Homo sapiens: one gene and its partner. The protein of the gene in region 2 purifies or fractionates together with the protein of the main gene of each other region. This does not show direct contact. Each region holds a gene or a part of one and is shown on either strand. Other genes may lie near its edges.

Region 1 (4,573 bases), on a different chromosome or scaffold from region 2:
AGCTTGATTACTGCTGTAATTCCACACCTACGATAGGAGCTGGCACAGAGTAGGCTCTCAAATATTTGCTGAATCAACTGCGAGCCAAAGAACCTTTTTTAATATTCAGGGAAGGTAAATCGCTCTTTCAAAAAAAACAAAGAAACTGCCATTACTTAATGAGACTGAAGACAGACAAAGCAGCAGAAGAGAAAAAAAAATACATTTAAAAATGTTAATTCAAGAAAAGAATACTTAGCAAAATCTTGGGTTTTTTTTTCTCCTGTTAGGCTTAAAGTACAAGGGTTAAAATGTAAAAACACCCAACTATTTTAGTTTCAACATGGTGACAGCACAATGGTAAAGGAATTATGGGAAATTTTAGCATTTAAGATGCTTCCACTGCTTTTAGCTTTGAAAGTACCAAAAGGAAAAAAGGAAAGGTAGGAGTCAGTCTTGTTTAATTAATTAATTAATTATTTTGAGATGGACTTTCGCTCTTGTCACCCAGGCTGGAGTGCAGTGGCGCAATCTCGTCTCACTGCAACCTCCGCCTCCGAGGTTCAAGTGATTCTCCTGCCTCAGCCTCCTTAGTAGCTGGGATTACAGGCATGCACCACTATGCCCGGCTAATTTTTGTATTTTTAGTAGAGACGGGGTTTCGCCATGTTGGCCAGGCTGGTCTTGAACTCCTGACCTCAGGTGATCCACCCACCACGGCCTCCCAAAGTGTTGGGATTACAGGCGTGAGGCACCGCGCCGGGCCAGTCATGTTTAACTTAGATTATTAAAATATCGATGGTTGACAGCTGCAGCAAACCACCATGGCACACGTTTACCTATGTAACAAACTTGCACGTCCTGCACACGTATCCCGGAACTTAAAAAAAAATCCCATTTATTATCTGACCAGATACACAGTACTCATTCAAAGCCAAAGTTAATTAACATAACTAGTATTGATCTTCTTACCTACGTTATTACCCTGTTCCTTTCTATGGTCTACTTCTTCATTTCCTTAATCTAGCCTGGTCTAACTACTGGATGGCAGATAAAGGCATCATCCTTCAAGTGCAGTAAGGGAGTAGGAAAAACTTGTCTCAAACTAGAAAACTGCCTAGCAAGTCTACTAAGATTTCAGTTTGAAGTCTACTAACATTTCAGTTTTTGTTTGTTTTACTGAACCCTAAACAACCATTAAGGCCATAAACAGACTTAATGACGCTCTACAAGGAGATTCCAGCAGGGCTCACTCATAACAAAAGAGAGAAACCTGTAACACACAAGCAGCTGTTACAAAGCATTTTTTATATATGGCGTTCTCTTCTTAGTTCACTTCACAAAAACCTAAAAAACACTGAGCAAAACCCTGACCCCATCAACTGGTTAAGTGCATAGCAACACTGTACTTTCATTAAATCACTTAAATAGTGTTTAATTCTATTCAGGTCACACAAATCCTTTTCAAAGAGCTAGTGATCTAATAGGAAAAGAGATTGTTACCAAAATAACCTCAACATAATTTCATATAACTGAGACTGTTTTGAGGATTGCCGAATACTTTCTACTTATAAGGCATAGAGTGCTGAACTGCAAACACTCAATTCTAATTTTAAGAACTTTTGGATTAGAAAACAGCTGTTTTGGGGAGAGATGGTAAGGGAAAAAAGTCCCAGTATAGTTACAAAATTAAGTATTACATAATATTTAAAAGAGCTTTCTAGGTTTCTTTCATGTTCTAGGGCAAGCCCTTAAAGAAGAAGACAAGAGATACAGGGAAAGCTAAAGTAGTGTTCAGGGTGGTGGAACCCACTAACAAAACAATCCGCTGGGCACCGTAAGTAAAGCATTCTATTAGGCTGTGACGCGAAACAAGAACAAAGGTTTCATTCCTACGAGAGATTAAGTTTTAGAGCAAATGGACACGATCGTTAAAGAATTTGATATTTCCATGTAAACTGCATTAGCAGGTTATGCGATCCAAACTCACAGGAACAACTCCAACTCTCGGCCATGCCCTATTTCATGTCTAGATTTGTTTAACCGACTTACATCATAATCCAAGAATACGAACTACAGTATATTCTTACAGCAAAGTTATTCCTTAAAAGCAAAACCGAGCCACCTTTGAAAACACGCACACACATTATCCACGGCACTAAAACCCCAGTCTTGACCGAGAAAGACCAACAACTTGGGGGGGAAGAAAACAACTTCAGAGCCAGAGCTCCCAAAGCAGAAAGCGCTGGCGGCTGAAGGGCACACGAGGTTCCGCTCCCGGGCGAACGGGCGGCGTCGGACATCACTAACCAGGCCTGGGGACAGGCGAAGGACTTGCAACTGCGGGCGCCGGCTCTGCGGGCGTTAAGGGAAACGGGGAAGTGAGAAGAGGCGGGGACACGAAAAGAGAAAAGCTCCCTCAAGTTTGCCCGATGTTAACGCTCCAAGGATGAAAAGAGCCGTTTGTTTCGTCTGGGGACCGTCGCGTTTGGCCCTTCCCCCGCCTCCAACAATTCCCGGCGAAGCCCCGCGGCACCAAGCCGGGCCTCCCACCCCCCCGGCGGCCGCCAACCCGCCCGGCCCCAGGACCTCACCTGCAGGGCCGGCCCCGGAGGCGCAGGCGGGCGGCGGGGAGCGCAGCCGCAGCCAGAGGTGCAGCGCGGCCCCGAGCACACACGGGCACAGCAGCACCAGCCAGTTTCGCATTGGCCGCCCCCGCCGCGAGCCGGGCTCTCCCGCGTCCCGGCGGAGAGGGAGGGGACCTGCAAGTGCGGAGACTGAGGGGCGGCGGCTGACGAGCGACCACTCCGAGCACGCCCGCCCTCGCGCTCGGCGACGTCTGGGGGGCTCCTCGCAGCTCCCGGCCCCGCTCCTCCGGTCCCTCAGACCGCGGGTGGCCGCGGCTTAGCCGGCCGAAGCCCCGCCCCCTCCGCCTGGCCTTCCCACCGGCTCCGCCCACCTTTTCTCCCACTCGCCCCGCCCTCTCCTCCCGCGTTTCCACACGCGCCAGCCAGCCGGCCGGGAGCTGAAGTCCCGCTCTGGGCCCAGGCAGGGGGCGCCCGCGGTTTAGAAACCACATTTCCCATGAGCCTAAGCACGCGCTTCCGTCACTCGGCGGCCGCGGGGGCGAAGGGCGAGGCCCCACACAGAGCATGCGCATCCCCCTTGACGTTTGCTGCCACCCCACGGCCCAGGGGAGGTAGTGCCGGAGACCCGGTGCTCGGAGGCTGCCCGGAGCCGCGAAGGGAAATGCGCTTTGCCTCAGATTTGAAGGAAATCCGAGTGGCTCTTGTGTGAAATCACGCAGAGCTCCTTTGTTCCGCGTGCTCTCTTGCTCGACTGCTGTGGGAGGTGGGATCCTGCTGACGTCTCCTTGGCCCGTAGAGTGGGGCGAGGAAGCCCGAGTGTCCGCGCCTGGAGCGGTGACTCATCAGGGATTAGCTCTGGTGCCGTGGGTTCCCGGCTCTTTGCCCGGTTCTGTGCTCTGGGAACGCAGGGTGACAGACAGCGAGCTGGGGACTAGGCTGTGGAACACGATGATGACGAGCCAATCAGGGTAGAACTGCACGTGCTCCGGGTTCATACTGGAGCTGGGAGCGAAACGGGAGCCGGGCGAGCTGGGAGAACGTGGGCTCCGGGGACCTGGGGAAGGGTGGCCGCAGCGAGCCTTCCAGGGAGAACGCCGGCCCCGCGTCTTGAGGCTTTGCCCCGGGTGGGAGCCCTCCTGGCCCACCAGGCCCGCGCCGAGGCAGCCGGAAAGCGGGGACGGGGCGGTGAAGGCACTGGGGTGAGGATGGGAGAGAAGGATGAGAACGAGCGGCTGGGCTATGGGGCGGTTTTTGTTTCTGCTTTTGTTTTTGAGACGGAGTCTCACTCTGTCACCCAAGCTGTAGTGCAATGGCGCGATCTCGGCTCGCTGCAACCTCCGCCTCCTGGGTTCAAGCGATTCTCCTGCCTCAGCCTCCTGAGTGGCTGGGATTACAGGCGCCCGCCACTGCGCCCAGCTAATTTTTGTATTTTTTTTGTAGAGACGAGGTTTCGCCATGTTGGCCAGGCTGGTCTCCAGCTCCTGACCTCAGGTGATCCGCCCGCCTCGGCCTCCCAAAATGCTTGGATTACAGGCGTGAGCCACCGCGCTCGGCCGCGGTTTTTTTTTTTTTTTTTTTAAGTTTCCACAAGTGTGGAAACAGAAGGTGACTGTATTATTGAAAAAAAGTCTTGGATGACAGAAGACCCAACTCAAACAGGCTTAAGGGAAAAAAGTACTTTGGCTCGCCGTGGCTCATGCGTGTAATCCCAGCACTTTGGGAGGCCGAGGTGGGCGGATCACTTGAGGGCAGGAGTTCGAGACTAGCCTGGGTAACATGGTGAAACCCTGTCTCTACTAAAAATACAAAAATTAGTCTGGCGTAGTGGTGGGCACCTGTAGTCCCAGCTACTCAGGAGGCTGAGGCAGGAGGATCGCTTGAACCCAGGAGGCGGAGGTTGCAGTGAGCCGAGATCGCGCCATTGCACTCCAGCCTGGGTGACAGAACGAGACTCTGTCTCAAAAACAAACAAACAAACAAAAAAAAAATAAAAAGAAAAGGCAAGA
Region 2 (3,811 bases):
TTGTTCACACTCTGTTGAGGAGGGAGATAACTGAGAAAAGAGAACAATTGTAAGATGCTCCTCTTTAGTACAAGCAAAATCCTGTGCAGCTGTTTTGCCCTTTTCAGGAAAAGACATTACTAGTTTGGAATCAGTTGTCTGCAACTTAAAATGACTTCATTATATTTTAAACCATCCTGGCTAAACCATGACAAGTGGCCACTCTATTTTGAACAGAACACGAAGAGCATGCTCTGACAAAGTTGGACAGAGTTCCCATGGCAATTTCACTCATTGTGTGTAAGATATACAAGGCATATCTGAACAAGTTTTTTCTTTTTATTGTGATGAAAACTAGAAGCTCTCTTTCCCAACATACTTCATCAAACTATTTACAACCTCTGTAAAATTTGTGAGTTTGAAAATACTTTTTCCACTATCACATATGTTACGAATACAGTAAAATATCTTCACTCTATTTTTTAAAGATGCAGTATCCTTCTATTTCATTTTCTTATGAAAATCTGGATTTCTATTGCAATTGCTCAGTAATTAGCATATTTAAAGTATCAGTGGACATGGGTTACTAAACAGACATTATAATGAAACTGTGAAAATATAGCAATTTTTATGTACATTTCTTAACTATAAAATGCAGGCAGAGTCATATATAGTATTATAAGCCGGTTTCCTAATAAGGTAAGTAACTCACATTTCTAGACAGCACGGATTATTACAAATTCTTTTTAAAAAAGTTCTTTGCTGATATTTGTTAGCCCACTGGCTGCTGCATATACAGTTGTGTACACACATGTGCATGTGTTGGGGCTGTCTGTACAGGTTAAGTGGAAGGCAGTGTGGGGATGAGTAGAAATGTCATATGGAAGACATGACTTACCAAACCCCTTTCTAAACTAAAGCCAAATCTAATTGAAGAGACTTTTTTAATGGGATGCACTACCTCAGAAAAACTAAAGGAAGAGATTTGGTCAATGATGTTTTATACTAGAATACATTTACCTGCTAAGTTTACAGGCAACATTGAAGAGCAAAATCTGAGACTGGATTATGAACTATGAATATTAAGGCTTTCTGGGCCTATTATGATTCATAAGAGTTACCTCACATTCAGTCCCTTATACGCAGACTGTAACATGGATGCTGGTATTCTTAACACTGCTTAATTTCTGTCAATCCTCACTATAAATGTTAAGACATCTTTAGAACAACATCATGGCTACATTTCTAAGCAGTCATAACAACATAACAAAGGCGTATTAATACATTTTGAAGGCCTCACCTCACCAGATTTATTCAGTTGCAGCTTTGGTAAGTATAATAAATCAAGTACAGAATAAGGAATACTGCATCTTTATCCATATAAATGTTATCATTCTAATGAACTGATTCCAAAGTGCAGAATTATGTTTAAAACACAGATGGCAATTTAAAGTTAAAAAGAATTGTATAAAAATGAACACAATCTTTGCATAAGCTATTCCAAATCTGAACCATAATGAAAACGGCCTTTCTAATCACCTGGAACTGGCATTTGTAAACACTGTAGCATTTTGTAAGTTTTTCCCCTGACAATCATCTTCCTTTTTCCCACTTAAGCTTTCAAGTGAATGAAAAGTGCTCATTTTTTTAAAAAATGTGGTTTATGTTGCTGTTACTCAACTGCTTTTGAAAACAAATGTCCTATAGTGTTTTATAGAAACGACGCCAGGCAGAAGTATAATCTTTATGGTGAAGTCATTAGAAATCTCAGTCTAACTGCCTTAATAGAACTTAAGACAAGTTATCAAGCAGGCTTCTCAGAGTCCACACACAATTGACAGAATGAGGGCAGAGGTGGATGCAGAAGCGTGAATCTTTTTTCAAACAACTTAAGATCAGACCATGAAAAGGGATTCTTAAAACCTCAAAGGCTGAAAGTCATAACTTTTCAAATAATGTAACTCCCTTGAAATCAATCTCTATACTGCAAACAGAAAATCAGGTCTACTGCAGCTGCTTAAGTAGTTAATGGCTCTATGTGTATAAGTTCCCAACCATGCACATATCCCCAGCTGCAAACTGAACAGCTTCAAATTTAAAATCAAAGAATGCTTCTAGTTACGGAACAACTGTTATGTCCTTTAGGATTCTACTGCTTTTCTGTTGCTCATGATGCACTGTGCTTTTTGAAAGAGGCTAGAAATGGACATGAGATGAAATGGAGGCTCTTCCATGACTGAAGACATTCCATTTCTTTCTGTCCCAAACCACTTTCTCCTTTCCATGGGGAAATACTTTTAGAAAACTCACCAAGGAGAATTTGCCACGTCTCAAGACAAGCCCCAAAGAAGTTTCAGTTCCTGAGGCTAGACCAGGGACTCAATTCACTTAATTGTGCTTAGATCCCTTCTTAGAAGTACTGATACGTCAAAAGGGGAAAATGATGGAATGCTGACAGGTTTTATCAGTTAACTTACCATCTCAGTCTGGTTTCCACTTTCAGAGGATGAGGGAAAATGTTCCCTTCCCCAAATCCATCCTATGTTATTAGAAAAGTGCAACTCATCTAGTTCTGTGCTAAATTTAAACCAAGCTGTCACTCAGGAAGATTCCCCTGCCTGTCAGTTTTATGAATTCTAAAAACCAAGTCTACCTGTAATACTCTCAAGACATCTTTCAGCAGAGAAAAGAACTGGCTCTTTTTATGAGAGCAAGCAGGACTAAATACAAATCTACACTTCACTTGAGAGATGCACCCACTACTTGCCAACTAGGTGCTGGTACTAGTGCCAGGGGGTTCATGGCTGTGTTTGTCCCTCTCTGTGTTCTCTGTCACTGACTAGTAACCAGCACTGGCATGCATCAACAGACCTTTTTCTATTCTGAATGGTCACAGGCAATGTGAAGTAGGAGTTGCATATAGTACAAAAAAACTTTCCAGGTGCTAAAAAAAACCCACTGGTTGATGAGTAGTAGACTGTGCAGCTAAAGATGCTATTTATCACTAGAACTGCAGCCCTTGTTGGAGGGAAATTGCTTGATGAATTTTTGAGACCTGGCAGACAATATAGAGCACATATTTGTGAAGCCATAATTTGACCTGAAAATCATTACACTGTTGCTTAATGTTTTAAAAAATTCCTTTTGAATACCATCCAACACAAATTGTCCTTGTTTCAACGTTCATAGTTCTCGCTTCATCAGAATAAGATTATCTGAATTAGAAGATGATCCTAAAAAGGGTAATTCTGTAACCGGAAATTATTTCAGAATGTCCAGACATTTAAAAATGAGCTAGTAATATTGTGAGGTTAATATGTGCAATTCCCAAAATCAAGTGTTTGTAATTAAAATATATTGCAAAGGTCTTTGTTGGAGACCTTTTATATCTAAGCTATAAAAAATTCTAGCAACAACAACAATAACAACAAAAAATCTCACCAGCCCCTCAGCCACAGAAAGCTGGAAAAAAACCCAGCTTGTGGTGGGGACAAAAATATGGTAATTTTTCTGAAAGAATGCTCGTTGGTGATGTATTGCTTGTTTACTGTATATGTTCCTAGTTGCAAAAAGGTTCATAATTTTATGGGGCTGATGGAACTAACACCTTCCTCTCATCCTCTGCACAGGATGAGTGGGTTCAATATCCCTGCAGATGCCAATGCAGGACACCTGGGTCCTGATACAGTTTAGAAAATGAAATCGGTATAGAAGAACCTATTGGAGAGTCACTTATCCTTGGCTCTCCAAGAGAGGAAACTAGCACCATGTCGGGCTTTCTATGGGAAGCATTCTCTTTCCACTGATTCAGTTCCAAGGAGAACTGACCCAT

The links.
Region 1: the proteins of KLF12 (region 2) and B3GALNT2 purify together in Homo sapiens (affinity purification with mass spectrometry; one large-scale study listed by BioGRID and IntAct). This does not show direct contact.

What each region holds. Positions count from the first base shown.
Region 1 is NC_000001.11:235,501,568-235,506,140, forward strand, and holds the start of B3GALNT2 (UDP-GalNAc:beta-1,3-N-acetylgalactosaminyltransferase 2), read right to left. Parts: upstream 2,886-4,573; 5' UTR 2,686-2,885; coding exon 2,574-2,685; intron 1-2,573. UniProt on the Homo sapiens protein: Beta-1,3-N-acetylgalactosaminyltransferase that synthesizes a unique carbohydrate structure, GalNAc-beta-1-3GlcNAc, on N- and O-glycans. Has no galactose nor galactosaminyl transferase activity toward any acceptor substrate.
Region 2 is NC_000013.11:73,690,405-73,694,215, forward strand, and holds part of KLF12 (Krueppel-like factor 12), read right to left. Parts: 3' UTR 1-3,811. UniProt on the Homo sapiens protein: Confers strong transcriptional repression to the AP-2-alpha gene. Binds to a regulatory element (A32) in the AP-2-alpha gene promoter.